Homo sapiens: one gene and its partners. The protein of the gene in region 1 purifies or fractionates together with the protein of each later gene. This does not show direct contact. Each region holds a gene or a part of one and is shown in the gene's direction. Other genes may lie near its edges. The genes, in order: ALDH4A1, GATD3, PGM2, ANXA11, FKBP1A, MTPN and GOT1.

The links.
Region 2: the proteins of ALDH4A1 (region 1) and GATD3 fractionate together in Homo sapiens (co-fractionation; one large-scale study listed by BioGRID). This does not show direct contact.
Region 3: the proteins of ALDH4A1 (region 1) and PGM2 fractionate together in Homo sapiens (co-fractionation; one large-scale study listed by BioGRID). This does not show direct contact.
Region 4: the proteins of ALDH4A1 (region 1) and ANXA11 fractionate together in Homo sapiens (co-fractionation; one large-scale study listed by BioGRID). This does not show direct contact.
Region 5: the proteins of ALDH4A1 (region 1) and FKBP1A fractionate together in Homo sapiens (co-fractionation; one large-scale study listed by BioGRID). This does not show direct contact.
Region 6: the proteins of ALDH4A1 (region 1) and MTPN fractionate together in Homo sapiens (co-fractionation; one large-scale study listed by BioGRID). This does not show direct contact.
Region 7: the proteins of ALDH4A1 (region 1) and GOT1 fractionate together in Homo sapiens (co-fractionation; one large-scale study listed by BioGRID). This does not show direct contact.

What each region holds. Positions count from the first base shown.
Region 1 is NC_000001.11:18,892,367-18,896,487, reverse strand, and holds part of ALDH4A1 (delta-1-pyrroline-5-carboxylate dehydrogenase, mitochondrial isoform a precursor), read left to right. Parts: intron 1-4,121. UniProt on the Homo sapiens protein: Irreversible conversion of delta-1-pyrroline-5-carboxylate (P5C), derived either from proline or ornithine, to glutamate. This is a necessary step in the pathway interconnecting the urea and tricarboxylic acid cycles.
Region 2 is NC_000021.9:44,136,505-44,140,625, forward strand, and holds part of GATD3 (glutamine amidotransferase-like class 1 domain-containing protein 3, mitochondrial isoform 1 precursor), read left to right. Parts: intron 1-672; coding exon 673-792; intron 793-3,745; coding exon 3,746-3,838; intron 3,839-4,121.
Region 3 is NC_000004.12:37,846,744-37,850,864, forward strand, and holds part of PGM2 (phosphopentomutase), read left to right. Parts: intron 1-187; coding exon 188-368; intron 369-458; coding exon 459-552; intron 553-1,778; coding exon 1,779-1,908; intron 1,909-3,440; coding exon 3,441-3,630; intron 3,631-4,121. UniProt on the Homo sapiens protein: Catalyzes the conversion of the nucleoside breakdown products ribose-1-phosphate and deoxyribose-1-phosphate to the corresponding 5-phosphopentoses.
Region 4 is NC_000010.11:80,195,016-80,199,136, reverse strand, and holds part of ANXA11 (annexin A11), read left to right. Parts: intron 1-4,121. UniProt on the Homo sapiens protein: Binds specifically to calcyclin in a calcium-dependent manner. Required for midbody formation and completion of the terminal phase of cytokinesis.
Region 5 is NC_000020.11:1,386,208-1,390,328, reverse strand, and holds part of FKBP1A (peptidyl-prolyl cis-trans isomerase FKBP1A), read left to right. Parts: intron 1-4,121. UniProt on the Homo sapiens protein: Keeps in an inactive conformation TGFBR1, the TGF-beta type I serine/threonine kinase receptor, preventing TGF-beta receptor activation in absence of ligand.
Region 6 is NC_000007.14:135,970,687-135,974,807, reverse strand, and holds part of MTPN (myotrophin), read left to right. Parts: intron 1-4,121. UniProt on the Homo sapiens protein: Promotes dimerization of NF-kappa-B subunits and regulates NF-kappa-B transcription factor activity. Plays a role in the regulation of the growth of actin filaments.
Region 7 is NC_000010.11:99,409,869-99,413,989, reverse strand, and holds part of GOT1 (aspartate aminotransferase, cytoplasmic), read left to right. Parts: intron 1-4,121. UniProt on the Homo sapiens protein: Biosynthesis of L-glutamate from L-aspartate or L-cysteine. Important regulator of levels of glutamate, the major excitatory neurotransmitter of the vertebrate central nervous system. Acts as a scavenger of glutamate in brain neuroprotection.

The sequences.
Region 1 (4,121 bases):
TCAGGAGGCTGCATGAAGCAAAGATAATTTCCTTTCTATTTCTCCTCTCCTTGTCCTTGGCCACCCCTCACCTTAGCCACTGGGGAACCCAAGGGGCCAGTGTCCAGCCCCAGGTGATAGCAGAAGAGCACTGGCCTTGGAGTCCAGTCCTGGGGGCCTGGTGTCAGCTCTGACACTCATGCATTGATTGTATTTCTCAGGTGCTTACTGTGGCCAGTCAGTGTGTTAGGCTTGGGGTGCCTGGTGGTGAATGGGATGGGTACGGGCTGGCTGTGTGGAGCCTGTGGCCTGGCGGGCACACAGATGGTCAGTCAGAGCTCTATAATAGGGTTTTCACTAGTGCTTCCAGAAAAGTCTAGAGCTATGAGAGGAATCCGATAGGAGCCCCATTCCGGCTATGTGAGGTTGGACCAGTGGAGGACATCTCAAGCAGAGAGGACCCCAGAAGAGACCGGGGTGACCGGATTGCACCAAATGGGGCAGGGTGATGGGGAATACATTTGGAGGCCTTGGTAAGGATTCTGATGTCTTTATTTTAGAAGAAATGAGAAGCCACTGAGTAGTTTCTCACTGAGCTCCCCACTGTGCCATCTCTCTGATGATCAGATTTTCATGTTAACTTTGGTTGCGGTGTGGACCTGAGTGACTTGGAGACTGGAGCAGGGCTGGCATGGCGTGAGTCCAGGTTGAAGTGACTAGTACCTCGGACGAGGTGTCTTGGGCAAGGTGGAGTCTGGGCCCTCTGTGTCTTTTCAGTTTTTCCCTCTATAGATTTCTGAAGCTGCATTGGCTGGCCCACAGCTCCTTGCAACCCTGACATCTCCTGGTGCAGAAGGTGAAATGGTGCCTGGCCTTTGTAGATCAGATCCCAGTACTTGCAACCCTGACATCTGGTGCAGGAGGTGAAATGGTGCATGTCCTTTGTAGATCATATCTCAGTACTTGTAGCCCTGACATCTCCTGCCACAGGAGGTGAAATGGTGCATGGCCTTCATGGATCGGATCCCAGTACTTGCAGCCCTGACATGTCCCGCTGCAGGAGGTGAAACGGTACATGGCCTTCGTGGATCAGATCCCAGCATTTGTAGCCCTGACAACTTCCAGTGCAGGAGGTGAAACGGTGCATGGCCTTCGTAGATTAGATCCCACTTGTAGAGGGTGAGGGGGACCAACTTGAGGTCTCAGGCTCAGGGCATGAGCAGAAAGGGCACTGCAGATTTTCAGGGAAACCTGAGTCAGATTCAGACTCTGTCTTGTGCCGCCTTCCCTAAGTGGGAGGACTGAGGGCTGCTCTGAGAAAGGTTGGGTTGGATCCATATCTGCCTCCCAGAGCCAGGCACTTCCTGGGTGCTTGGAAAACGCATGCTGAATAATTGAGTGAGCTGTTATTGACCTGATCCAATTTATCTCTGCATCGTTGCCATGTGGAATAAATGTGTACTGACTGCATAAATGCGTGAATGGATGAGGAATGCTGTCCTGCCAAGAAGGTCCTCATGGATCCTCAGAGAGGCCCCAAGTCCTGTGACTGATTCATCTCTGCCTTCACCCGAGCAGCCAGTGGATGGATACTCCTGTTAGCCCAAAATTGTTCATGAACCAAAAAAAAAAAAAAAAAAAAAGAAAGAAAGAAAGAAAAAAGAAAGCACTGATGGGTGGGAGTCCTTAGGTTATTTTTAGCTGCAGTCGACTCAGGCTGAACTTTGAACTAGTGTCTGTTCTCCAGGCCACACTCAGACTGATGGACGGACAGCTGGGCCAGTGCTTGGAGACTTCCAGGCACAGGGAAAGCCGTGGGGGCATGTGATCCTGAGGTCACAGTGGGCATCTGGGCCTCTGCCCTGTGGAAGGAGGAGGGAGGCCTGCAGGATCTCTGACTCTGACATTTCCTGGGAGGGAACGGAGAAAGGAGAACTGGCCGCTACTACATTTATTTATATATTTTGAGATGGAGTCTTGCTCTCTTGCCCAGGCTGGAGTGCAGTGGCACGATCTGGGCTCACTGCTACCTCTACCTCCCAGGTTCAAGTGATTCTCCTGCCTCAGCCTCCTGAGTAGCTGGGTGTATAGGCGCGTGCCACCACGTCTGGCTAATTTTTTTGTAGTTTTAGTAGAGATGGTGTTTTGCCATGTTGGCCAGGCTGGTCTCGAACTCCTGACCTCAAGCAATCCGCCCACCTCAGCCTCCCAAAGTGCTGGGATTACAGGCGTGAGCCACTGCAACCGGCCTACTCCGTTTTAACCTGGGGATGGAATATGGTGCTGTGTATTCCTCCAGCAGTTGCTGAGTACCTGGGCCAGTCCCCGAGGCTGTGATTTTTGGGGGCATCTGGGAGCCCATTTGTCTCTGAAAGCCTGATCTACTGAAATAGCATTCTGAGACCTTTACAGTTTTCTTTGGAAAGCAAGAGCAGGAGGGGTGAGGAAAGGCCAACACTTGTAATCCTCCTGATGGCCCTGCAAGGTGCATCATGTCAACCTTAAATAGTGAGATTCAGAAAGAAGGATTAAGTAGTTTATTCGAGCTCAGAACTTGAGGATGGCCACCGGGGAGCATAGATTCAAGTTACCTCGAATATACACTCCGATTAGCTGCAGTAACAAGTGGGATTTTAAGGTGCGGAGGAAAGAGGCAGTTTCTAAGTCATTTACCAAAAATTTATATTAAAATAATATAAGCTACCGGCTGGGCACAGTGGCTCACGCCTGTAATCCCAGCACTTTGGGAGGCCAAGGCGGGTGGATCACTTGAGGTCAGGAGTTCGAGACCAGCCTGGCCAACATGGTGAAACCCCATCTCTACTAAAAATACAAAAAATGAGCTGGGTGTGGTGGCGGGCACCTGTAATCCCAGCTACTTGGGAGGCTGAGGCAGGAGAATTGCTTGAATTCGGGAGGCGGAGGTTGCAGTGAGCTGAGATCGCACCACTGCACTTCAGCCTGGGTGACAGAGTAAGACTCCGACTCAAAAAAGAAAAAAAAAAGCTACTGATTTGCTGTGCATTGTTCTTTGTGTGACGCTTTCCAGGATCATGAAGTTAATGGATGAGGCAGCTAGTCAGAAACAAAATGCCTTGAAATAATTGCCATCGGGTGTGGATGCAAAGGGCATGACTCAGGTCCCATATTCGTGTCTCCCTGGGCCTGATACATTTTGCATACTTCACATAGCTCACGCTGCTCTGAGCTATTTTTCTCTTTTCGGTAGTATTGTACCCATTTTCCAGGTGAGGAAACTGAGGCTCGCAGACTTTCTAAGAATGCACTGAGGTCATGGAGCAGGTGTGAGCTTTGCCTCCGGATTTGTCCACTTCTGGGGCCTGTGCTTTTCCCATCCACTGGGACCTGGGCTCCAAAGAGGGGCTGGGACAGACTCAGTTATTTGGAGTCCCGCTTCTCGGCTGAAAGAGTTGATGGTGATATCTGGCTCACCATCTTTGGTGGGTGTGGTGCTGTTGAGGCCTGGAGCGCAGCTTGAATGCAGGGTCAGGAGCTTAGCTGAGGTCCCTGTCAGAAGCTTCCAGATGGTCCCAGGGGATTGACACTGCCTTGTCCCTTCCTGAGGGACTGTGGAGACTCGTGGCTGCCTCTCCATTCTTCTCATGATGGTAGATGGAAGAGGGCCGTGCAGATTTTAATGTATTTATCGTTATCAAATCTCCATATTAACCCCATGAGGGGGTGTCAGTGTTTTAGGGAGGGAGGGAAACTGGCTTCAAGACATGTGACTTGCCCAAGGTCACACAGCTAGTGGGAGGCAGAGTGGGGGTGGGGAGTGCAGAGCTACCGGCTCAGGGTGGAGGTTGGTGGGGAGGGGAGGGGAGTGGAGAGAAGGTCCTATGTGCTCACTTTACCTGTCAGGATCTTGGGTGCCCTGCCCCTGCCTCTCCCTCTCCCTCTACCACGCAGGCCCCTCTCAGCCCCCCCCCGCCTCCTTCTACCTGGGATGCTCTTCCCAGCTCCTCTCAAGCCTCCTTTAAGTCCCTCTCAGGGTCACCTCCTCAGAGAGGCCTTCCCTGACCACCCTGGCTGAAGCAGCCCTATTCTCCCCCTTGTTTGCCATGCTCACCATCTGCGGTTACCTTGCTTATTTCCTGACCAGGCCTCACACTGAAGGTCAC
Region 2 (4,121 bases), on another chromosome or scaffold:
TGTTACTGCGGTGTGTGTGGTTCTGGCCTGTGTGGCCTGAGATCCCCTTCCCTTGCCTGTCCTGCCTGACAGCCCTGTGCAGGCCATTCCAAGGTGCCTTCCAACTGGCCTCGGACCACGAGAGGTCGGAGCTGGAGATTCGAGGAAGAAGCCATAGCTGCCTCCTGGGGCTGTGCTTCTCACCAGTGGGGACCCCTGTGATTTCTTTTCCTGCCTGGGACCCTGGCTTCTGCACCTGGACTTGCACCTTCGGCCCCCACACCTGGGGGCTAGCAGCTTCCTGCGGTGGCTGGCCTTCGGGTTGCTTCACTGGTCCTGAGTCCTGGCTTCTTACCTTCCCCTCTGAGTCCCACCGTCCTGATGAGTGCACAGAATTCTGTCTGCTTTAGACACTCGGAGAGACTTCCATTTCCCATGGGCCTTGACTGCAGAAGATTCAGAGTGATTTGGCGCAGGTTCTGAAGTGCTGATCGGAAGAGCCCAGCATAGATTTAGCGTTGCTAGAACCATGTTGTCTTTCCAGGTAGTGACCAAACATGCTGACCTGGAAGTAAGTCCCCGTGTGGCTGAGAGCCACGTGTGTGGAGCGTGTTGCCTGTGGGCTGTGCCCCTGCCGCGCTCCACAGTCCTTCACCTGCATGCTGAGGCTTTTTGCCCTGTGCTCTTTCCCAGGAATGTTTTGACCGAGTCTGCGAGGATCGCCCGTGGCAAAATCACAGACCTGGCCAACCTCAGTGCAGCCAACCATGATGCTGCCATCTTTCCAGGAGGCTTTGGAGCGGCTAAAAACCTGTGCGTATTTGAGCTCCAAGGTCTTCCGCTTTCCATGTGGAGCAGATGGGAAGGGGGTGCACCTGTCTGCTGTCCAATGTGGTCAGTGGAGCGGCGATGGGAGGGGGTGGTGATAGGAGCAGTCTCTGGGTTTAGGGTCTGGGCAGGGCACGTGCCTGCCCTCTGACTTGGGAGCTGTTCTTAGGGTTGGGTCTTAGGTAGCGTTGTAGCGAGCCATGCTTTTGTTTCTGCTTCTCTGCTGCCTCTTCTCTCAGCATTCCTGGTACCCAGCAGCTTGTCAGAGTGGGTTTGGGGCTCCCTCTTATCTCATCACTGTGCTGTAGGTCTCGTCACGTTGAAATCAGTCTCTGAGTATTTACTCCTTGCAAGTGCCAGTTTTTTTTCTCTCTCTCTCTCTTTTTTTTTTTTTTTTTCTGTAGAGATGAGGTCTTGGTCTGTTGCCCAGGCAGGGATGCAGTGGCACGATCCTAGTTCACTGCAGCCATGATCTCCTGGGCTCAAGCCATCCTCCAGCCTCATCCTCCTGAGTAGCCGAGACTATAGGCGCATGTCACCATGCCCATGGTTTTGTTTTTTTTTTTTTTTGGCCATGTATGTAGCCCAAATTGGTCTGGAACTTCTGGGCTCGAGTAACCCTCCTGCCTCCCAAAGTGCTGGGATTCCAGGCCTGAGCCACCGCGCCTGGCCCCAATTCTCTTATGGAACCTTGCAGGATCAGAAATGGGTTTCCTTCTTGGTAGTTTGGGCGGCGGTCCTGACAGGAAGAAGGGAGGCCGCCTTGGCGTGGCTGTTTTGGTAGCTGGACCGTGAATCATGGAGGCCTGGCTGGCTCCCACACGGTGGCGTCCTTGAGTTCCAGATCCTCTTTCTGTTCTCTGTGTCTCCTCTCTCTCTTTGCACATTCATGGAGGTTCTCTGGGCACCGCCCCCATGGCCCTGCCTGAGAGGTGGAGGTGGTGCCAGGCTGACCCTCCAGGGACAGCTCTGCCACCTGCAGGAGCACTGGCCACAGTGCATCGGAGCGTGCAGGTGGCTTCTGTGCCATGGTGTGGGTGGCAGCCCCAGCACGGCCGGCCCCGGTCGGCAGCTCCTGTTTCAAGGGCAGGTTGGAGGCTGGCTGGCCGCTTGCCCCACCCTGGGCAGCCTGCACCCAGAGTCGAGGGGTAGGCAGTCTCCATCCGAAGAATGCGCCCCTCCTTATCCCGAAACCTCAGAGGCCTCCTTCCTCAGATGCCAGCTGTTTTCTCAGTGCCCTTGGCCGTGCCCTCACCCCTCTCTCACCGGAAGCCCCACCCCAGCCTGTCGTCCCCGGTCTCCTGAAAGCCAGCAAGCCTCGTCGGTGCCGCCCACACCCCTGACCTCACGCAGCCCCACGTCAGGCTCGATCTTTTGTCCAGTTGTCCCTGCGTCGCTGCCGTCTCCACGAGGCTCTGACCACTGACACCGTGTGTGGCGGGGCGCAGGGGCAGCTGGAGGGTGTGCTGGGGGCTCCGTGCCCTGGCATGGCTCCTCCACATTTTGCCAACCCAGAGGCACAGGCGTGAGGTGTGTGGTGGTTCTCAGGGTCAGTGGGTCTTGGCCTTGGCTTTCAAGGTGTTGATGGGCCCTGGGACTGATGTGCCCGTGTGTCTGAGCCCACGTCCCCTGGGCGAAGCTCCCATTTTCACTGACCTGTCCAGAGCGTTCTGGGTGAGCCTGCCCTGCGTGTCCATGGTGCGGCGCGCTCTAATGAGCTGCAGCCGTGGCCACTCTGCACCCTCTGAGACAGTCACCCATGGGGACGGCGAACACCCACTGCCTCCAGAAGATTCCCAGCACTCTGCCAGCAAAGCCATGTGGAAAATGCTGGGGCAGAGGACTGGGGTGCGTGAGGGTGGCGTAGAGCCCAGGGGTGGGTTCGTGGGAAGGTGTGTCCACTTGTAGATTTGGTGGCATTGCCAGATCACACGCCCCATGGGCAGTGTGGAGAGACCTCCCCTGCCCCGCGTGCCCTCCACAGCTCCTGCTCCTCGGCCTGAGGTGTGGATGCTGGTGTCGCAGGTAAACTGGCGTTTCTTTCACGGTCATCGAAGCAAGAGTGCTTGGTATGCCTGGAGGCCGACTGCGTTTCTTTTTTTGGGAACTCCTGGAGTTTCCTGCTGCCCCTTTGTTTTAAGGAAAAACTCTCACACCGTGTTTCTCCTCCTCCCACCACAACAGTTGTCCACACAGAAGGTGGGTGTGAAGGGTCTTCCCCATGCACCACGCAGGGGTCGCTGCTGCCTTCTAATTCAGTTCCAACAGTATGGACCCGGGGTAGCGTCCGATCGCACGGGTTGAGGGCTCCGTCCCCAAAACTGCCCTCTGACACATACCGGTAAACTGTCTGAGCCTCTGGAACTGACCAATTGGCTTCAAGTTGGGGTTCCCACAACCCCGTTTGCTGGCGTGGCTCACAGTGCTCAGGGAAACATGACGTCAGCATTCTCCCCCGGGGAGTGGGGGACCCTCTCAGGAGAGGGTCCTGAGACCCACAGTCAGAAAGGCGGGGAACATTAGAGTCCTGCTTTGGGGCAGGTAAAGGGCAGGCGGGAAGGTCAGAGGCTGCCCGAGGCCCGACACAGCCAACGTCGTAACAGAAAGCTAACAAGCAGCACGGGAGTTAGGAGCCGGAAACCAGCGTCTGAGTCTCAGCACCGCAGCCCGGGTTCTGCCAGCTGCTCCGGAAGGTTCCAGGGCGTGGGCCCTCTCGCCCTGGTGGCCTCCTGCTGCACCACTTCCTGATCCTCCTGCTTCCTATGCTTATTTCTGTTTAAAAAACAGGAAAATATGTTCACATCAAACGCGCATATGTGCAGCCATGCCCATGTCCCTTGCTGCAGCTGACTGAGGGTCTGGAGCTGTGCCTAGGAAGCCCCCCAGGAATAGACCCTGGTTGTGAGGCTGTCTGAGGAGGCCTTTTGTCTCCCGGTAGGAGCACGTTTGCCGTGGACGGGAAAGATTGCAAGGTGAATAAAGAAGTGGAGCGTGTCCTGAAGGAGTTCCACCAGGCCGGGAAGCCCATCGGGTGTGTACAGCCGTGCAGGCCTCGGGGAGGGAGGGAGGAGGGTGCGTGGGCCCGCGGCCTCTGTTCTCAGCCAGGAGCTGCCGCTGATCCTGAAAACTCACAGCTGCTTTTCTTGTTTTAACTGAGGGGATTTCACACGATGTCACTGGTGACTTAACAGGAAGGAGAGGCACAGTGCACTTCCCTAGAGGAGGCCTGGAATTCTCTTGGCTCCCAGAGGTGTCCCTAGGCAGTCCCTCAGGACCCCTATCCTTTACCAGACCCCTTCTCCCAAGCCCCTTAG
Region 3 (4,121 bases), on another chromosome or scaffold:
GCTCAGATGTTTGTAAAATGGCAGTTACATTTCTGACCAGTTATTTAAAGATGATGAATAACAAGAACAGCCTTGCAGAAAATACTTAGATGCTTTGTTTGCTAAATTGTTTTATCCCCATGACACTTTAGAGTCTTCCTTAAGATTATGGAAATGAATGGTGGTTGTTGTTTTTTTTTTCTTTCAGTGGTGAATGGAGGGTGTTTTCAGGCAATGAGTTGGGGGCCCTCCTGGGCTGGTGGCTTTTTACATCTTGGAAAGAGAAGAACCAGGATCGCAGTGCTCTCAAAGACACGTACATGTTGTCCAGCACCGTCTCCTCCAAAATCTTGCGGGCCATTGCCTTAAAGGAAGGTTTTCATTTTGAGGTAGGGTGTTTCTGGGACTCACTCATTTTCCTTTCATCTGCTCTGTAGAAGATCTAAGGCATGTCTTTCTCTTTTGGATTATCCCTTTAGGAAACATTAACTGGCTTTAAGTGGATGGGAAACAGAGCCAAACAGCTAATAGACCAGGGGAAAACTGTTTTATTTGCATTTGAAGAAGCTATTGGTAAGAAGTGATCATGAACATTAAGGAATTGGCTGCAAGGCAAAAGGAAAAGGTTTGGATTGGGATTCAAAGATCCACAGTGAAACACGGTTTATTTTGCCTCTCCAGCACTCAGGTTGAATGTCGAACTGTCCTACTCCAAAATTGACATCTCAGATGATTTACAGCCAAAAGGAATGTCTTAAAAACAACTAAGTCATTCATGTCAGAATCCTTTGCCTGGATGACTCAAAACAGTGACATTGTATGCTTGGCTGCCGGTACATGTATTTTGGGAGTTGTGATGTTTCCTCCACTGTGGTGGTTAATATCCAGGCCTAAACACTGTGGTATTTAATGTCCCTCCTCCTCCAAAAGTGCTAATGAGGATCTATGCTACGGTCTAGCCAGAGGAAAGGAGAAGGAAGGCATGGTTTGCTGCTGTCATCAGAATGATACTCACCCAAAAGGATGACCCAGGTCCAGCCAGAATGACAGAAAAACCCTTGTCCTAAACTGTCAATATAAATGAACAGAAAGGAGAACTAGCTATAGAAATTTGAAACTCACATTGTACCAAACGCTTTTAGCTATTAATTTAGTAAAAACTATTATGCATTAGATTTATTTATATTCATTTGTATATTCTCTGCAACACTAACACATGATTTAACTAATCAAAGCATAATCGCTCAGGTTCTGCTCTTTTATTGTCAGATTTGGCAGACTTGTCTTTCCGTAGCTTTTTATTTTAAGAAAGATTTTCTTTCATTTATCAAGTATTAATTGCATGTCTATTACTCAGTGACTCTAAAAGAAATGGATGGCACTGACCTTAGCCTACAGCAGCTTAGATAGATTTAGTTAAGTAATCACACACAAGAGTAGAGGCCAGATGTCAAAATGAATAATGTAACTAACAAATACTATTGGGATTCAGAGAAGAAAGAGATATGTATTGACTAGGACAATTAGAAACAATTTCATGAGCTGGAAGGAGTTTCATGACTCTAGTGATTGAGCACCATGTGGCCAGGAGGGAAAATCTTGCAGGTTCTTCAGCAAATACTTCTTGAAGGCCTGCTATGGGCTAGGCACTGGGCTAAATTCCTAAACATAAGGTATTAATGAGAAATGTGCATACACGCAACACTGTACAACCTCTAATATGCAATAGCCAGGATTCATACTCATATGTGGTTTGACACAGTATTGTATAGATGTATGTATGACGTGTGTTTCTGCAGGATACATGTGCTGCCCTTTTGTTCTGGACAAAGATGGAGTCAGTGCCGCTGTCATAAGTGCAGAGTTGGCTAGCTTCCTAGCAACCAAGAATTTGTCTTTGTCTCAGCAACTAAAGGCCATTTATGTGGAGTAAGTTGTTATTGACTCTGTTGGATTGAAATAATATTTTGAAATGTTCTATTATATACTTATGCATGAGATACTAATATCCTTTCTAATGCTCTTATTTTGGTGATGAATTCTATTTCTTATAAAAATTAAATAAGGCTGGGCACAGTGGCTCATGCCTGTAATCCCAGCACTTTGGGAGGCTGAGGCGGGTGGATCACCTGAGGTCAGGAGTTCGAGACCAGCCTGTCCAACATGGTGAAACCCCGTCTCCACTAAACATACAAAAATTAGCTGGTTATGGTGGTGGGCACCTGTAATCCCAGCTACTCAGGAGGCTGAGGCAGGAGAATTGCTTGAACCTGGGAGGCAGAGGTTGCAGTGAGCCGAGATCGCGCCATTGCACTCCAGCCTGGGTGACAAGAGCTAAACTCTGTCTCAAAAAAAAAAAAAAAAAATTTAAAAAAACTAAAGAGATCACCTTTTCCTTTTGATATGTAACAAGTTAGTAATTACTATTCCCGATCGCATTAATTCTTAACAAATGACAACATGAAAGAATGTGATTTTAAGTGTCCAGTATCAAAAAAGATTGAATGTCTTCATAATACATCTATTCATTTTTTTGTAGCACTTACTCAACTCTGCCTTGCCAGTGTAGTGCGTAAGCATCCAAAGAGAATACAGAAATGCGTGTGACCTGGCTCTCTGTGCAAATGCAGGCGGAAGACCAGGCAGTCATTTGGTGATCCCTGGGGTAGATTGTTGGACCTCTTTTTTTTTTTTTTTTTTTTTTTTTTGAGACGGGGTCTTGCTCTGTCACCAGGCTGGAGTGCAGTGGTGTGATCTCGGCTTACTGCAACCTCTGCCTCCTGGGTTCAAGCAATTCTCCTACCTCAGCCTCCCGGGTAACTGGGATTATAGGTGTCCCCACACCTGGCTGATTTTTGTACTTTTAGTAGAGTTAGGGGTTTCACCATATTGGCCAGGCTGGTCTCAAACGCCTAACCTCAGGTGATCCACCCACCTTGGCCTCCCAAAGTGCTGGGATTACAGGCGTGAGCCACTGTGCCTGGCCTAGACCTCTGTTTTAATGGTCTTTTAAAAATTATTCCTTTGGCGTCAGTTTTGGCTGTTACATTTATTTTATTATTTATTTTATTTTATTTTATTTTTTGAGATGGAGTCTCTCGTTGCCCAGGCTAGAGTGCAATGGCACAATCTTGGCTCACTGAATCCTCCACCTCCTGGGTTCAAGCGATTCTCCTGCTGCAGCCCTCTGGAGTAGCTGGGACTACAGGTGCCTGTCACCATACCCGGCTAATTTTTGTATTTTTAGTAAAGACGAGGTTTCTCAATGTTGGCCAGGTTGGTCTCATACTCCTGACCTCAGGTGATCTGCCCGCCTCGGCCTCACAAAGTGCTGGGATTACAGGCGTGACCCACCACACCCAGCCATATTTATTTTAGAATACACTGGTTGGTACATGTTCTGTGTCCACCCTACAAAATTATTTGTTCCTCATGTGCATGAATTTGTATTTGTTTGATAGGTATGGCTACCATATTACTAAAGCTTCCTATTTTATCTGCCATGATCAAGAAACCATTAAGAAATTATTTGAAAACCTCAGAAACTACGATGGAAAAAATAATTATCCAAAAGCTTGTGGCAAATTTGAAATTTCTGCCATTAGGGACCTTACAACTGGCTATGATGATAGCCAACCTGATAAAAAAGCTGTAAGTAATGTCTTCTCTTTTCAACTAACCTCTTTTCTATTTACCTTTTAAAATAATTTGAATAAATTATTTAACCATACAATTAATTGAAGCTGATTTTAGGCACTTAGGCGTGATTATAAATAAGCTATAAAAAATATATGGAAGCCGGATGTGGTGGCTCATGCCTATAATTCCAGCACTTTGGGAGGTTGAGGTGGGCAAATCACTTGAGATCAGGAGTTCGAGACCAGCCTGGCCAACACGGCAAAACCCGGTCTCTATTAAAAAATACAAAAATTAGCTGGGCGTGGTAAGTTAAAAACCGCAGGCTAGAACTGAAAGAGACTCTACTAGGCTGGGAGCGGTGGCTCACACCTGTAATCCCAGCACTTTGGGAGGCCGAGGCAGGTGGATCACTTGAGGTCAGGAGTTCAAGACCAGCCTGGCCAACATGGTGAAACCCCATCTCTACTAAAAATACAAAAATTAGCCAGGTGTGGTGGCTCATA
Region 4 (4,121 bases), on another chromosome or scaffold:
CGACAGATCAAGACTTGGTCTCAAAAAAAAAAAAAAAAAAAGTTTATCTTGAAGATGGAATCTTCGTAAATAAAATTTGTTTCTCTTATAATCAGAACGTGGTTGAGGGTGGATGGAGGTTGACAGAAGGCAATGATAACAGCAACAAACCTAATTGCATGGTTTCTGTCTTTGGTAGAGGAATTCTGACTGTTGACATACCAGATATACTTGATTTTATTCTTTGCATCTTGCTTATTACTTATTATACTTGCATGCATTCCTTTCCTGATTTTTGCTGTTGGGTTAAGTTTCTCATCGTCATCTTCCCCACGCCACCTGTATTACGTTTCAGGTTTGGTTGTGAATGAAGAGAGGAGCCCCGTCTCTCTCTCTCTCTCTCTCTCACTCACTCTCTCACTCTTTCTTGAAAAATCAGGGTCGAGGTTAAGTGTGTGTTCCATGAGATTGTCTTGGCACCAGGCTCCTTATGGACTGTTGTCCCTAGCATTCTCAAGGGCTGTGGTTTTCAAACTTGAGCATGTATAAGAACAATCTGGAAGGCTTGTTAAAGCATAGATTCTTGGACTGCACCCTGAATCATTCTAATTTAGGAGGTCTGTGATGGGACCTGAGCACGTTAATTGCTTACAGGCTCCCATATTGTATAATGCCGCCGGGCCACATGTTGGGTAGCACCGTCTAGGTGCCTCCCTTAACTGCATGGCCCAAGACAGCTCACTTTCACATCCCCATGGCAGGCCCTCCTAGCTGCTAGGGGTCTGGAAAGCAGTCCTTAGTGGGGGCTGCTGTGTGCCAGGCTATGGTGTGTTCTGTTACTAAAGCAAGAGAGAACAGATGGTTGAGGAGGACAATCAGAAGTTTCTGGAACACCACCCACTGCTCTCCTGAATTTGAAACTACTACTATGCTTATCAGTCTTGCTGTTGGCTAAGCCTGTGTTCCTCAGGTTAGGAAGTGGGAATGGTTTCTCATGACAGTGGCAAGCCCGCAGGCAGTGCAAGCAAGGCAGCTTCTGTTCCTGTGGGCTGGTGCACAAGCTGGCAAGCTGCTGTGGCTTTGCTGATGCCCCGAGAGTCATCTGCTGCTCCCAGCCGTCAGGTCTGGCATCCGCATACTCCATTGCTGCAGCCACCACCAGATCTTCCAGACCCCATGGGATCGAGGGGCCCCCTCCAAGACCCAGTGGGATAGGGGTTATTTTTTTTTTTTTGAGACGGAGTCTCACTCTGTCGCCCAGGCTGGAGTGCAGTGGCATGATCTCGGCTCACTGCAAGCTCTGCCTCCTGGGTTCACGCCATTCTCCTGCCTCAGACTCACAAGTAGCTGGGACTACAGGCGCCCGCCACTGCGCTTTGCTAATTTTTTTTGTATTTTTAGTAGAGACGGGGTTTCACCATGTTAGCCAGGATGGTCTCGATCTCCTGACCTCGTGATCCTCCCGCCTCGGCCTCCCAAAATGCTGGGATTACAGGTGTGAGCCACCGCGCCCGGCCAGGGGTTATTTTTTTGTGCTACCTCCTCCCAACTTCCCTTCTTCAACCCCAAATATGACACCTAGGTGACTGTTTCTAGGAGAGTTTGAGGGCAGAGGCTATTTGAACCCTGAACTGAGGTGGGGGTGATGTTCGGTCTCCGTGGCTGGTAATATCCTTGAGAGATCAGAGCAGTGGTTGCCAACCCCCATTCTCTGTTGTCATCACACATAGGGAGGGGATCTGGAGAGAAACAGGGTCATAAGGCTCCTATGGAGTGGCTGGTACTTTTCTGAGTGGCTTGATTATATGGGACATTATTTGGGAGGCAGTAGTAACTTTCTTCTCTTTCCGGGGTTTAACCTTTGTATTTCTCAAGTCCATTCTCCAGCCTGAGAAGGTGTGATGGAGCCCAGAAATACGTTGAGTGGTTGGGGACCAGCCTGGTTCATAATGCACTGGCCTGGAAATCCAGAGATGTGGTTCTAGTCATTGTCCTGCCCCCAGCCAGCTCTGAGACCTCAGGCAGAGTCTTTCTGCTCTCTGGGTCTCAGCTCCCACCTCAAATAAAATAAACAGGTTGAATGAAATGATTTCATGAAGGCCCTTTCCAGCTCCAGTATTTTAGGATTCTTATGTAATCCAAATGCTAGTGCACTGGGAATTGACTTTATCTTGAAGAAGTGTCTTTCAGAACCTGCTTGCTCAAGTTCAGCCCCTTGGTGAGGCTCCGGACGCTGCCACTCTCCCAGCCTGCCTTGTCTGGAGTTTCTCCAGGCTGAGCTGCCCCAGGTGCCAGCCCTCAGAGGGGAGGTCTGAGGTGCAGCCTGGCTAATGATTAACATACGCTACAGCTATTTTAGTTCCTGGCATGTGGGTGGGGAGTTGAATGCTTAACAGCACCTGTGTAGGCTTTTTGTTTAGTGCCTGGGAAAATATGGTCAGGGTTGGTGGAGTGCTGCCCTGAGGCTGGCTGGCTGGCTTCGGTGACTTAATGGCACCTGTGACCAGCAAGGGCAGGACATTGGGGCTCTGGAGTGCACGCCCAGGGCCCCCACCCCCTTCTCAGTAGAGCTGGAGATGTTCATACTCCCACTCACATCACTTAAGGTCCTGCCTTGAGGTGGGGGAGAGAGGGGAATGTCCTAGATGTGTCCTCCCTGCCCCCAGAATTCCTGGGGCCTACGTAATAGAGGCTACCGAAACAGGTGCCACCCAGAGAGTGAAAGAAATGAGTCAGAGTCCACCGGGGTTCCTGCCAGTATTCAGTATGTGTCAAGGGCCTCACAGTGCCAGCCCTGTGGCAGGTGGTGGTGGGGGACAGGAAGAGAGGCCTGTCCTACAGCCTGTAGCACTGATGCTCTCATGGGGAGGCCTAGAAAAAAAGTGTCTGGCTCTGGCACTTGGGTGTGTGACCTTTGCATGTCAAGAGTCAGCTCAGCCTTCGTTCCCTTGCTTATAAAATGAGGATGATAATACCTATCCAATAGGAGCATTGTGGAGGTTAATGAGGTAATATATAGGGATGTAATATATGTATCTATCCTAGGAGTTAGAAAAAGGAGAGCTTATTAGAACATTAGAGAACATGGAAAACATTTTAGGACAAGTGCTGTGAGAGTTCCAAGAAGAGTGAGCATTGTGGATAGGAGATCAGGGTGGGCTTCCTGAAAGAGATATGGTATGGTTTGGCTGTGTCCCCACCCAAATCTCGAATTCCCTCGTGTTGTAGAAGAGACTTGGTGGGAGGTAACTGAATGGGGCAGGTCTTTCCTGTGCTATTCTCGTGATAGTGAATAAGTCTCACAAGATCTGATGCTTTTATAAAGGGAAATTTCCCTGCACAAACTCTCTTCTCTTGTCTGCTGCCATGTGAGACGTGCCTTTCACCTTCAGCCATGATTGTGAGGCCTCCCCAGCCACGTGGAACTGTGAGTCCATTAAACCTCTTTCTTTTGTAAATTGCCCAGTCTTGGTTATGTCTTTATCAGCAGTGTGAAAATGGACTAATACAAGGTGGAACTTCATCTGGACTCAGGGAAGGCCAGGAGACAGGAGGTCAGACCAGCTAGAGGGACCACCTAAGCAGAGGTGTCCTGAAAAGGGAAAGTGCTGAGCTGGGCTGGGCTAAGGACATGCATTTTTTGTGCTTCTCTCCATCATGCATGTCCCTGAGGTACCTTCTGTTTTCATGCTGTTCCTCAGTGGCCCAGTGTGAGTGACTCTTGGCTCCAGACTGCTTGACACAGCTTAGGATGCCAGCTGCAGAAGGGTCAGCCCATTCCCAAGTGAAGGTGTTTTCTCCTCCAGAGTGAGCTGCAGGTCCTTGAACTTCCAGTTGCATGCGGCTGACTGGGGACATTGTCACCATCTGAAGAGCAGACCTTGATAAGGGATATTTGGAAAGGTTTCCTGAGGCTTCTAGGTAGAGCAGGGGTGCTCAGCCATTTGGAGCTGGAATATACACTCTGTTAAGTCTCCCAGGCTTGAAGGGGCTGGGCTTCCAGAGTGGTTTGAACAGGCCCCGAGGACTGGCTGATGGGCATCAGGGCCTTTCCGGGAGAGGCTGGGGGACACACTGCTGCCATCACACTCTTCAGTCTTCTTCGCCTCTCTTCCTCAGCCTGTGGTGAGAGACGGGTCTGT
Region 5 (4,121 bases), on another chromosome or scaffold:
TTCTTTTGAGTATCTGGCTCAGATTTCTTGGCTGTGATTCTGATTGTTACTTCTCTGAGAAGGAGAGTTTGAGTAAGGTGAACACTCTTGATCCAGTCAGCTCTTGCCAGGTGTCCACTCAGCTGATTTGGGCACGGGTCCAGAGAAAGAGGGGTGGAAGTAAGGTGGCCAAAATCTCCCCTTAGCCATCACAGGTGTGCAGAGCACAGACTGACCTTTACCACATGGATGCTTTAAATGCCACTAATGGCTGTCAGTCACCTTGATGTCACTCTCAAGGGTCCCTCTGGTGACTTCCGTGACCTTCTGGCAGAGCACAGCATGAGCAAGGCCTCAAAGGAATGCCTGCACTACCTCTGTGGTACCAGAGGGAAAATACAAAGTTCACTATCACCAGCTAAGCATCTCCTAGGAGCATGACAGGCATTGAGGTGGGAGGGAGGTGGTGGAAAGGTAAGCTGCCAAGTAAGTGCCTTTAGGAGCCAGGGAATTCTCATGGCGCCTCCCTGCTGCCTCCAGTAGCTTCGTCATCTTTACTGTTAGCTTGTCCTGGCACACAGCTAGGTTTAGACCTCTTTTACTTACTTCAGCAGGCCGTGTGCCTGCCATTGTGAGAGCAGCCCCAAGGGGATTGAAGGAATGTTTTCTTTTTTCTTCTTAAAAAGTAACTAACTGGACATTTTGTCCTTGGGATCAGGTTTAAGTCAGGTATAGCCTCCCGGTTTCTGACTGAGAAAAACCAGGAGCCCCTCAACCTCATGTCCTCAGGAGGTTGACTGGGAAGGCTGCTGAGGCTCCCGGGACAGGTGTGGCCACTTTGCTGCAGCCTCCCTCAAGCCCCTTGCTTTTCCTTAGCTTTGTTCCCCCCTCTCCTCTGCTTTATTCCATCCACTCCCTTGCTAGGTATCTCTTGGTTGGTGATCTGATGTCTGGAGGGAGGCTCACCCTCAGCAGAGATGCCTCAGATGGCTTCCCCTGACGTGTGCTGTCTTGAGGCACACAGGCTGTAACTGTTGGGCAGGGCTGCAACAAGTCCCTTTGCCTTCCCACAGCAGATGTTTTTTGAGCAACAGCAGCAAGCCAGGCTCTAGGGACATGGCTAGTGAACTAAATAGACAAAGACCTGATCTGGTGGGGCTTTGCTTATGATGAGGAGACTGATAGTATGGCCATGGAGCACATCAGGTAGTAAGAAGCGCTGGAGAGATTAAAGCAGAGTGAGGGATGGGAAGGGAAGTTGGCTGCTTTTCGTGAGGGTGATTGGAAAAGGCCTCTGAAAAAAATGGCATTTTAACATTCACTCAAAGGACATTGGAGAGGGAGCTACAGGGCTGTCTAGAGTATCCAGGCAGAGGGAAGAGCTAGTGCAGGACCCTGAGGCTGGAGCCTGCTCGGTGCATTAGAGGAACAGTAAGAAGACCGGTGCGTTAGAGGAACAGGAAGTGGATTGTGTGAAAGGGTATGTGGCAGGAGATGAGGGGATGGTGGAGCCTCGTTGGTTTTTATAAAAACGTTGCCTTTTTCTAACTCAGGTGAGAGCCACTGGCTGGCTTGGCTTTTAATGCCCGCCCCCGCCCCCCCAACCCACGCTCCTTCTGGCTACTGTGTGGACAATGGGCTTTTGGGGGCAAAGGCAGAAACAGGACACTGGTTGTATCCCAGGTGTGTGGAGTGCCAGCTCAGGCAGTGGGCAGAAGTGGTGCCAGGTGGACAGTGATCCCCAAAGAGCATGTGGGTTCTTCGCTGTGTTCTGATCTTGACCCTGCCATACAACGGGCTATGAGAGCTTGAACAAATTGTCCCACAGTTCCCAGCTTCCACATGCTGTCTATAAAATGGGAGTAACGATGCCTGCTGTGAAGCAAATGCCTATCGAGACTACCCAGTTGTCTCCAAAGTGTTGCTCTTTTTTAAAACCACAGTTCCATTGAGCCTCACTCATCGCAGTTGTTATGTCTGTAATCTCAGTCTAGAAGAGTCCTTACGCTGTTTTTTTCTTAATAACTCTGATTTCTTCAAAGAGAGCAGGCTAGTTATAGAATACTCCACATCTGTCTTACTGTTTTCTCATGGTATTGTTTAACTTGTTCCCTGCCTTGATTTTCTGAACCGGATGTTTAATCTTTTAAGTGTCTGAATAGATTCCGTTTAAACATTTTAGTGTGAGTACTTCATCCTCAGCACACATGGGAAACATCACTAGTTGTGATGCTAAATTTGATCTTTTCTGTAAAGGTACATTTTTCCCTTTGCATTTAGCAGTGATCTGTGGAGTGCTTAGGTAGCCATAGATGGTCTCTTGCTCATCAGCCTTTCACCTAGTGGTGTTTACACCATCTGATCATTCTCCCCTGAAGAAGTCACTGGCATTCACAAAGTGTTGATTTTTAAAATTCCTTCATTCTTTCTAAATTTATTAGCTGTTATCCTTCTATAAGATAAGGTAAAGTAATTCTTTACCTTTAAATACCAAATTTTATTTTTATTTTTTGAGACAGTGTCTCTGTCACTCAGGCTGGAGTGCAGTGGCTTGATCATGGCTCACTGTAGCCTCGACCTCCCAGACTCCCATCCCGGCCTCCCATCCGGCCTTCTGAATAGTTGGGCATACAGGTGCATGCCACCTGTCCTAATTTTTGTATTTTTTGTAGAGACGGGTTTCGCCAGGTTTCCCAGGCTAGTCTCAAACTCCTGGCCTCAAGTGATCCACCCTCCTTAGCCTCCCAAAGTGCTGGTAGTACAGGCATGAGCCACCGTGCCCAGCCTTTAATTACCAATTTTTAAAATGAAAAATGAATGTTAACTGATGGGGTATTGCCATTCCCAGTGGGGGCAAGTGACTTTTTCCCCCTCTATTTGCTTTGACTGTACTGTGGGCTGAAATTTTTTGTCAGGGCCTTAAGATCAATGATACCCATTATTCTTTTTGATGCTAATATCATCCTAAATTTGGCCAGTAGGAGCCCTTTAAGCTGGCTCCAGTACCTTTTTGACAGGCTCCCACCATTCCTTCATCCATTTCTCGGTTTCACTACTCTGGTCCAATTATCAGCCATCTTTCAAAGAGCTCTGGTTCCTTTCAGTGGGGTCCATGACCTTTTTTTTTCTTGGTAACAGCTTTATTGAATATAATTTACATACCATAAATTCACCTATTTACTCATAGATGTTTTAACTAGAACATTTTTAGGCTTAAACTGATTTTTATGAATTACTGAGGGGTTTATTGTATCCATAAACTGGAAATCATTTGTCTGCCTTGGAATTTTCTCTAAAAATATTGTCACCTGCTGTTTCCCATGGAAGAAGCCAAGGTTATGAATAACTTAATCACATAGCATTCAGTTCTCCCTTTGGTGCTCATGGTGACATTTGTTTATTTTTACTTCTATTTTTTCTTCTGTTTTTTTGTTTTCTTTTCCTGCTAAAAAGCTTAACCAAGTCTCTGCATTCCCTCCCCTGGACCCCTTTGATTTTGACCAGGTGTATTCTAGCAGTGCAGAAAGTCGGGGAGGTAGAAATAACCAGTTCTTAGATGCTACTGTCTCTTTCTGTTACATTTGCTCTTCCTCTCCCAGGAGCTCAAGCCACCTTGGCCTGCATTCATTCCTCGAATGCTCCAAGCCTTTTCCCACATGGAGGTCTCTGCCCCTTTGCTTAGGTGCCACCACACTGCCCCCACTCCCCACTGCATGACAGGCTCTTTTCTTTATAGCACAGCTTAAGTAACACTTTGGATGCATACATGCATGCTTCTAATTCTGCAACAATGCACCCATCTATTTTCTTAGCCCCCATCATAGTCAGGATCCGTGTAGTTAAACATCTGCTCTTTCCCCAACCGACTGAAGGCTCCAGGAGGCCAGACCCACACTAGTGTTGTTCTCCAAGGTCTCCCCATCAGTCTTGGCATAGAGTAGCTATTCAGTGACTGTTTGAATGAGTGGCCAGTTAGGACCTGGCATTCCCTCGGTCACTCAGTGAATATATAAGGAGCTGGGCAAAGCCTCAATGTTGCCCTCAAGAAGCTTACCCTGTAGGGAGTGGTCAGTTACAATGAAAGTACCTCAGGCAACCTACACCTATAGGCTAGAACTTCTTGGAGGAAGTGCCATTTGGTC
Region 6 (4,121 bases), on another chromosome or scaffold:
TATTTATTGACTCACATTTTTCATCTACCAATTTGTGAACACTCACTTTTTGAGTTTCTGTAATGTGCATCTATCTGAGTAGGTGTGTACAAAGAAAATACTAAAGAAACACTTAGACCTGTCTAGTCTTCATTCTCAGGGGTGAGAGTCTATTTTAAAAACTCTCCTCAACATTCCTGTGAAGATCTCTCATATTGTTAACCTAAGAATCTACCTGTAAGAGTAAGATAAGCATTTTAGTATTCCCCTCCTCCTCCTCTTTTTTTTGGAAACAGGGTTTTTTTGTTTTTGTTTTTCGGAGACAGGGTCTTTGCTTTGTCGCCCAGGCTAGAGTGCAGTGTCGTGATCATAGCTCACTGTAACTTCAGCCTCCTGAGCAGCTGGGACCATAGATGTACACCACGACACCCAGCAAATTTTATTTTTTGTAGAGACTGGATCTCACTTTGTTGTACAGGCTGGTCTCAAACTCCTAGCCTCAAGCGATCTTCTGGCCTCGGCCTCCCAAAGCACTGGGATTACAGGTGTGAAAGCACTGGTTCACAGGTGTGAACCCGTTTTTCCTTTATAAATTAGTATTTTTAAAAGTCAGTAATTACACTTTTCTACCTGCCTCTGACTTCTCTATTAAAGTTCGAAGTGTGAGTATCCCTAAATCATTGGTTTTAGGTGAGTTCTTGAACTTAGAAAAGTCAGTTCACAGTCCCCAAACCACTGAAAATTGTATTTTGAAATGGAAAAGACAGTATTGAGAGAAAAATTTAGATTATTTAGAGAAAAATTTAGATTATTACATTAAATGTTTCATGTATAACTTTAAGACAATATCTGAAGCAATTTTAAAGTCTTTCAACACTACATTTGGCTTCTTGACTGACTTAAGGACCACATTTAGTTAATTCATTCATTTTTACTAGGCATCTTTCAGGTCTTAAACTCTTTAGTAGTCCTGGGATGATAGTACAGAAGTTCGACACAGTTTTCAGGAAACGTAAGCATCTATATTTAGCAGACCTGCGTGAAAAAAAATTCATACTTTTATAGTAGTATGCAAATTATAAATAACATCTCATTTTCATAAAATTCAGTTGTCCGGCTGGAAAACAAGTGAAAGCCAGAAAATAAGGTATTCATGAGCAGCTATAAGAGATATTCATAGCCCCATTTTTGATCTGGATGTTTCTTTTGGGTGACATTATTTTTGACTTTGTCTTACATTTCTGCCTTTATGTTCTCCTGTTGGAGTTAATTCTAGCCTCACCTGAATTTCAGACTGCATAAGCTCTGTTCAGACAAATTCCAAATTGAGCTGTTTTCCTCTCAAAAACTGTTTTTATTCCTATTGTGTCTCCATTTTCACTAATGGTATCATGACCCAACCATTTGTCCAAACTGGAAACTGGGAAATTTTCCTAGATTTCTGAGGGTTACCAAGACTACCTTCTTAGTCTCCCTCATCCATTCCTCACTCTCCTTTCTTCTTACTACTTTAGATCAGTTGCTGCTTCTTTCCAGCCTGGACTATATTTTCTTTCTTGACTATAAGAAAATAGTCAAGAAAGAATATATAGTCCAGGCTGGAAAGAAGCAGCAAAAATTGACCCCTTCCTGGTCAGTTTACACAGTTTAGGTGGAGGGATCTCTCAATAACATGAATATAAGCATGTAATCTTTTTCAGCCAGTCTCCTGCACTGCCCTTAAAATATTAATACTTTTGTGATTTCTCACTGCTTATTTTAAAAGGGCCAGCTCCTCATTGGTATGGTGTACTAGGCCACTATTATCTGGGCTTGCTTTTCTACACTTGCCTCTCTCTAAGCACTCTGCTCCAGACCCTGCCATCCTGTTTCTTCCTTGTAGATCTTTACATGTGTTCTTTCATCCTCCCTGACCAAGTCTGCTCACCTCAATCCCTAACCCCCAACCTGTTAAACTCCTATTTACCCTCCTAGGGTAAGTATCACCTCTAACAGAAAAACACCATACCGATGAGGAGTTGGCCCTTTTAAAATAAGCAATGAGAAATCACAAAAGTATTAATATTTTAAGGGCAGTGAGGGAGACTGGCTGAAAAAGATTGACTTCACATAGAGTGCTGCTTCTTTTACTGTTTTGCTCATCAGATTGCTGTGATTTTGTTTACATGTGTCTTCATTAGGCTCTGAACTCCTGGAGGGTAGATAATATATTCTTTTTCATCTTTCTGTCTCCAACATAGCGCCAAGGAATTTTACACATTAAAATCATGTTTCTGGTAAGAAATTCATTTTATTCTTAACTTAGCAATAATTTCAGCATACTTCATTAATTACAGAATAATAATTACCATTGACTGGATGACTTACATTGTCAGGTACTGGAAAGCACTCTGCAAGATGTTTTACCTAAGTTTTTATTTGCTTCTTACCACAGTGTTTCAGTATAAGTAATAATCTTATTTTAAGGATGAAGAACCTGAGGCTTAGAGAACTGAAGTAACTTGACAAGGTCACAAACTAAGTAGCATAACTGGATTTTAAACCCAGAACTGTCTGAATCTACATGGGGTGTGTGTGTGTGTGTGTGTGTGTGTGTGCGCGCGCGTGCGCGTGTGCGCGTGTGTATTTATAACCATATCAGTTTGCTTTAAAAGTGGTTTTTTTTTTTGCTAACAACACTTTAGAATTAAGAAAACGAGAAAGAGGCTTGTAAGAAGCCGGTACAACTAATTAGCTCTGACTGTGAATGAAGACAAAAATGGCAACCGTATTTTAAAAATTGTAAATGTAACAATTCAGAAATAATTAGTATAGAGACAAACATCTCTGTAAACTTAAACTCTCATCAGAGACTGTCATTACTCAAGACGTGTCCATAAGAGTGACTGATAGCCTGCAGAATGTTTTGTATTTATGGTCACATATAATCTAACCTTATAATTTATGTTCCTAATTGTGATCCTACACAGTCCAGAAAAAGTTAAATTTTGTTTGTTTGCCTTAGGAAGAAACAAAAATAACTAAATTATTGAGATTTCTATTCATAATTATTTAAATAAAACAAGTAACATTTTGAAAAAAGTATGTTTATTAAATTTTATGTATTTGAGGATTGTGATGCAGTATACAGGTATTATTTCATTTACTTATCAACAGTAAGCCATGAGCATTATTAATAATGTTAACCCCATTTTAGAGATTTTAGAGGCAGAGATTAAATAACTTGCTCAAGATCATAAAGTTCTTAAGTGGTGAAGCTGAGATGTGAACTCACTTCCTTGGGTTCTGAAGGAGTTTCAAAAGCCCCATGCTGTTAACTACTTCAGCATACCCTTGACCTTCATTTCTCAATAAGGCCAGAAACTAGGGGGGTACTATATTATTGAGTAAATAGTAAAAATAATCATAGCAGGATGGTAATTATCCATTGAGACTACTAAAAGGTGAGCTTTCTGGTGGATTTTGAGGATCCAACATGCTTACAGGTGAGTGCTTGTGAGTTGCATTGATAAATAGCCCCTTTTAATCTTCAGCAGGTCTGATACATGTACTCTCTTGTTTACATGTACTTCTATTTCACTTGCTGTGAAATAGAAGCCTGGTCTCTAACTTCCCTTTCTCTGTGGTTTCCTTTCCCTCCAGCCTCCATTCTAATTACATCTGCCGTTGACACTCTAATAGGTTTGAAAAGCAACAATTGTGCACCATGTGAAAGGATAGAATCTCTTGAACCTGAGAAAGATATCAACTCTAATCTTTAGAAATTCCAAGACTCATTGAGATCACTTTTCACTTTCCTAATAAAATAGCCAATTTAAAAGAGGTCCTGATTCAATCTACTTTGCATTTATTGGTTTTAGGCAGCTTCCCTTTTTTTTCTTCTTTAAATTATTAGTTTCTTTCTTATAAAAATGTATCACTGTGTGTTGCCCTTTCTACAGAAGGGCTGGTGACCTATTCAGAAAGCATATGTCAGCTTGTATAAGATACAGGTGCCCTCAGTAGACAGAGAAACATTAGTATAGATTCTTTTCTAATTATTAATGCTTTTAGTCATTTTAAAAAATATATAAAATAGAGGAAGATCTTTTTTTACATTGGAACATAAATGTTCATTCAGATGTACATAGGCTATATAAAGT
Region 7 (4,121 bases), on another chromosome or scaffold:
GCATGTTTTTGCAGTGGCTGGTACCGGTTGTTCCTTTCCATATTTAGTGCTTCCTTCAGGAGCTCTTGTAGGGCAGGCCTCGTGGTGACAAAATCTCTCAGCATTTGCTTGTCTGTAAAGGATTTTATTTCTCCTTCACTTATGAAGCTTAGTTTGGCTGGATATGAAATTCTGGGTTGAAAATTCTTTTCTTTAAGAATGTTGAATATTGGCCCCCACTCTCTTCTGGCTTGTAGAGTTTCTGCTGAGAGATCAGCTGTTAGTGTGACGGGCTTCCCTTTGTGGGTAACCCGACCTTTCTTTCTGGCTGCCTTTAACATTTTTTCCTTCATTTCAACTTTGGTGAATCTGACAATTATGTGTCTTGGAGTTGCTGTTTTTGAGGAGTATCTTCATGGCATTCTCTGTATTTCCTGAATTTGAATGTTGGCCTGCCTTGCTAGGTTGGGGAACTTCTCCTGGATAATATCCTGCAGAGTGTTTTCCAACTTGGTTCCATTCTCCCCGTCACTTTCAGGTACACCAATCAGATGTAGATTTGGTCTTTTCACATAGTCGCATATTTCTTGGAGGCTTTGTTCGTTTCTTTTTATTCTTTTTTCTCTAAACTTCTCTTCTCACTTCATTTCATTCATTTGATCTTCCATCACTGATACCCTTTCTTCCAGTTGATCGAATCGGCTACTGAAGCTTGTGCATTCGTCATGTAGTTCTCGTGCCATGGTTTTCAGCTCCATCAGGTCCTTTAAGTACTTCTCTGCATTGGTTATTCTAGTTAGCCATTCGTCTAATCTTTTTTCAAGGTTTTTAACTTCTTTGCGATGGGTTCGAACTTCCTCCTTTAGCTCAGAGAAGTTTGATCTTCTGAAGCCTTCTTCTCTCAACTCGTCAAAGTCATTCTCCATCCAGCTTTGTTCCGTTGCTGGTGAGGAGCTGCATTCCTTTGTAGGAGGAGAGGCACTCTGATTTTTAGAATTTTCAGTTTTTCTGCTCTGTTTTTTCCCCATCTTTGTGGTTTTATCTACCTTTGGTCTCTGATGATGTACAGATGGGTTTTTGGTGTGGATGTCCTTTCTGTTTGTTAGTTATCCTTTTAACAGTCAGGACCCTCAGCTGCAGATCTGTTGGAGTTTGCTGGCGGTCCACTCCAGACCTTGTTTGCCTGGGTATCAGCAGCGGAGGCTGCAGAACGGGGAATATTGGTGAACAGCAAATGTTGCTGCCTGATCGTTCCTCTGGAAGTTTCGTCTCAGAGGGGTACCCGGCCATGTGAGGTATCAGTCTGCCCCTACTGGGGGGTGCCTCCCAGTTAGGCTACTCAGGGGTCAGGGACCCACTTGAGGAGGCAGGCTGTCCGTTCTTAGATCTGAAACTCCGTGCTGAGAGAACCACTACTCTCTTCAAAGCTGTCAGACAGGGACATTTAAGTCTGCAGAGGTTTCTGCTGCCTTTTGTTCGAGCTCTGAGCCTTTCTTCTGCTTGGAAGGCCTCACCATTCCCAGGCTGCTGTCTTAGTTCACTAATAGCCTCTTAATTTACCTTCCTGCCTCTAGTCTCTTCCCTGTTTTAGTACATTCTGCATGCTGCAGCTAGGATGACCTTCCTTGGCAAAACAAGCTACTCATGTCACCTGTTCCCACTCCCCACCCCCACCGCCCATAGCTCCCCCATTGCCTGTAGGGTAAAATCCAGACTTTGAGCTTGGCATGCAGTGAAAGTAGGTGACAGGTGACAGTCTTCATCCTGTTCTTACAGTTGCTGATTTCCCCTCACTCCACTAGAGGTCCTGACATTCTAAGAGTCTTGCTGTTCTCTAGACCTACTGGGCCCTGTCAAGACTAAGAACCTTTGCCTGGCCCTTCTCTCCATTTGGAATGCCCTCCCTTATTGCTCTAGCTGTCCAGTCCCCACCTCTAAGTCCTTCAAGAGCTGATCAAGGGTCACTTCCACACTGAATCCTTAGGTATTTTAGGCAGAGCTTGTTGTTTAAGCTCTCTGAGTTATCACAGGACTTTGTTCACAGCTTGGGAATAACAGTACTTAACTGTTCTTACTATAATGGATAATTTTATAAGTCTTCATCTCCCACAAGGCCCTAACTTTCCCCAGGAGAGTGATCATTGCTTATTTACCTTGCAGATTTTCAGCATTTGGCTCCTATCCGGGTACCTCAGGTTCCAAAGGTTTGGATTCATTCATTCCTTTAGTCATCAGATGCCCACTACTAGAGCCAGGCACTGTTCTAGATGCTGGAGCACAGCAGTGACTCAAACACACAGAATCCCCTGCCCTTGCATTCAGTTTCGGGGAGAGGAACAGACTCTAAATGTAATCTTTTTGACTATATCAGTAAGAAAATGATGTAGTATACTAAAGATGATAAATGCTATAAAAATGGAGCAGGAGGTGGCATGTTAGGAATTCTAGGAGTGGATACAGTTTTAACTAGGGTGGTTATGATAGAAATAGAAATGACATTTGAGCCAAAACTTAAAGACGAGACATAAATGAAAGAATGAGTGAACAAGTAAACCAACAGTAATTGTTTCTTCCCTTAGATTTTTCTTCTCCAGATTCAACATTTCCAGATCCTTTACCCATTTTGAGGAGACCTATTTTCTAGACTCCTCACTGCCTTGTATTACTTTTCCACTTTCAGATCTTAGGATCCAGACAGAAATGTCGATTTTTCATCTCTGGCATAGTGCTGTTTCAGCTTTGAGATTACTGAGCATTGTAGGAAGGAGGGCTCATGGGTCATAACTCATTGTCACATCATGACATCCCACTCTCGCTTTGATTGCCTCTAGGCGACTTGGGGCTTCTGCTGTGGCTCAGATCTTTTCACCACTGTCTTCTTTCTTCATCTAGTTCAGCACATGCTTATGTAGTACCATGTGCCAGATGCCGTGAGAGATGCTGGGGGCACCCAGATGAATGCAGCATGGCTCTGGCCACAGGCAGCTCCTGGTTGCTCTCCTATTCCTCATGGTGAAGTCATAGTATCGGCAAATTGTTATCTCAGACAAGGGTTCTAGAATCCAGCAATCTTATGCTGACATGTCCAACAGAGGCCTGCTCTATCTAGCTTCATACCAAGTCTTCCTGGATTTCCCTTGTTCTGGATACTCTTGTTTACCCAGGTCCAGTTGCCTGGCTCCTTGAGAAGTCTGTACTTACTTCCTTTGATGTTATGATTTTCCTTTATAACAAGTACAGGACATTCTTAGGCTGTAGGACAATTTGCCAAAAATCAGTTCACAGAATGACCACATTGCTATATTATTGATTCACCAAAAACTTGTTTCTGTTAGTTGCTGATGTTTAGAGCAACTTGTGTTTCACTGAAGCCATCCAGTATTTAATAGATTTTTAGGGAGTGATAACTTCTTGAGAATTTGATATTTCAAGTGTCATATATGTCATGAATGTCAAGGATTAGTTAATGTGGAGTGGGTTTATCTCTTCTAAGCACATTTTTAATGTATTCTACTGATTTTTAAAAAAATGAATTTGCTTTCTGTAGTGGGAGAGAAAGGGTGGAGTGAAAAGTTGAGAACAGGAAATGAAAAATTATGCCTGGGAATGTTTCCACTGGTATCTATGCATCTATCGTGTTTCCAGAAGTTAAAACCATGTTCAAGGGAGGTCTTGCTCATTTGCTTAGGAAGTATTAGCACTCTAGAGTGGCTTAGGTATCTGCAATGTGAAGTCATGTATGAAACTGACATTCAACTTAGCTGGATGACAAATCCATAAAAAATAAATGCACATTTGTGTTATATCATCTTGGTAGCAATTTGCATAAAGAATTCAGGTAAACCACAATGTGGGGGCAAAACTTTTAAAGTAATAGCAAGGGATGAGTGCTCAGTAAGGATCACTGTAAATAACAGAGTAGTTAGCACACCAAATCTGACACACACTGAGCATTTTCACCCCAGTGCACTGCCTTTGCCCCTCTCTGTAATGTACAGCTATGTTTAGTTCTGCATCCCCTTGAATGTCAACTTTGCTTATGTTTCACATTTCAGATAGTATTCTTTCACAGATGCTCACACCTATAAATACAAACAGAACATTGGTGCATAATAGTGCCGATAATTGGTAACATTACCTTG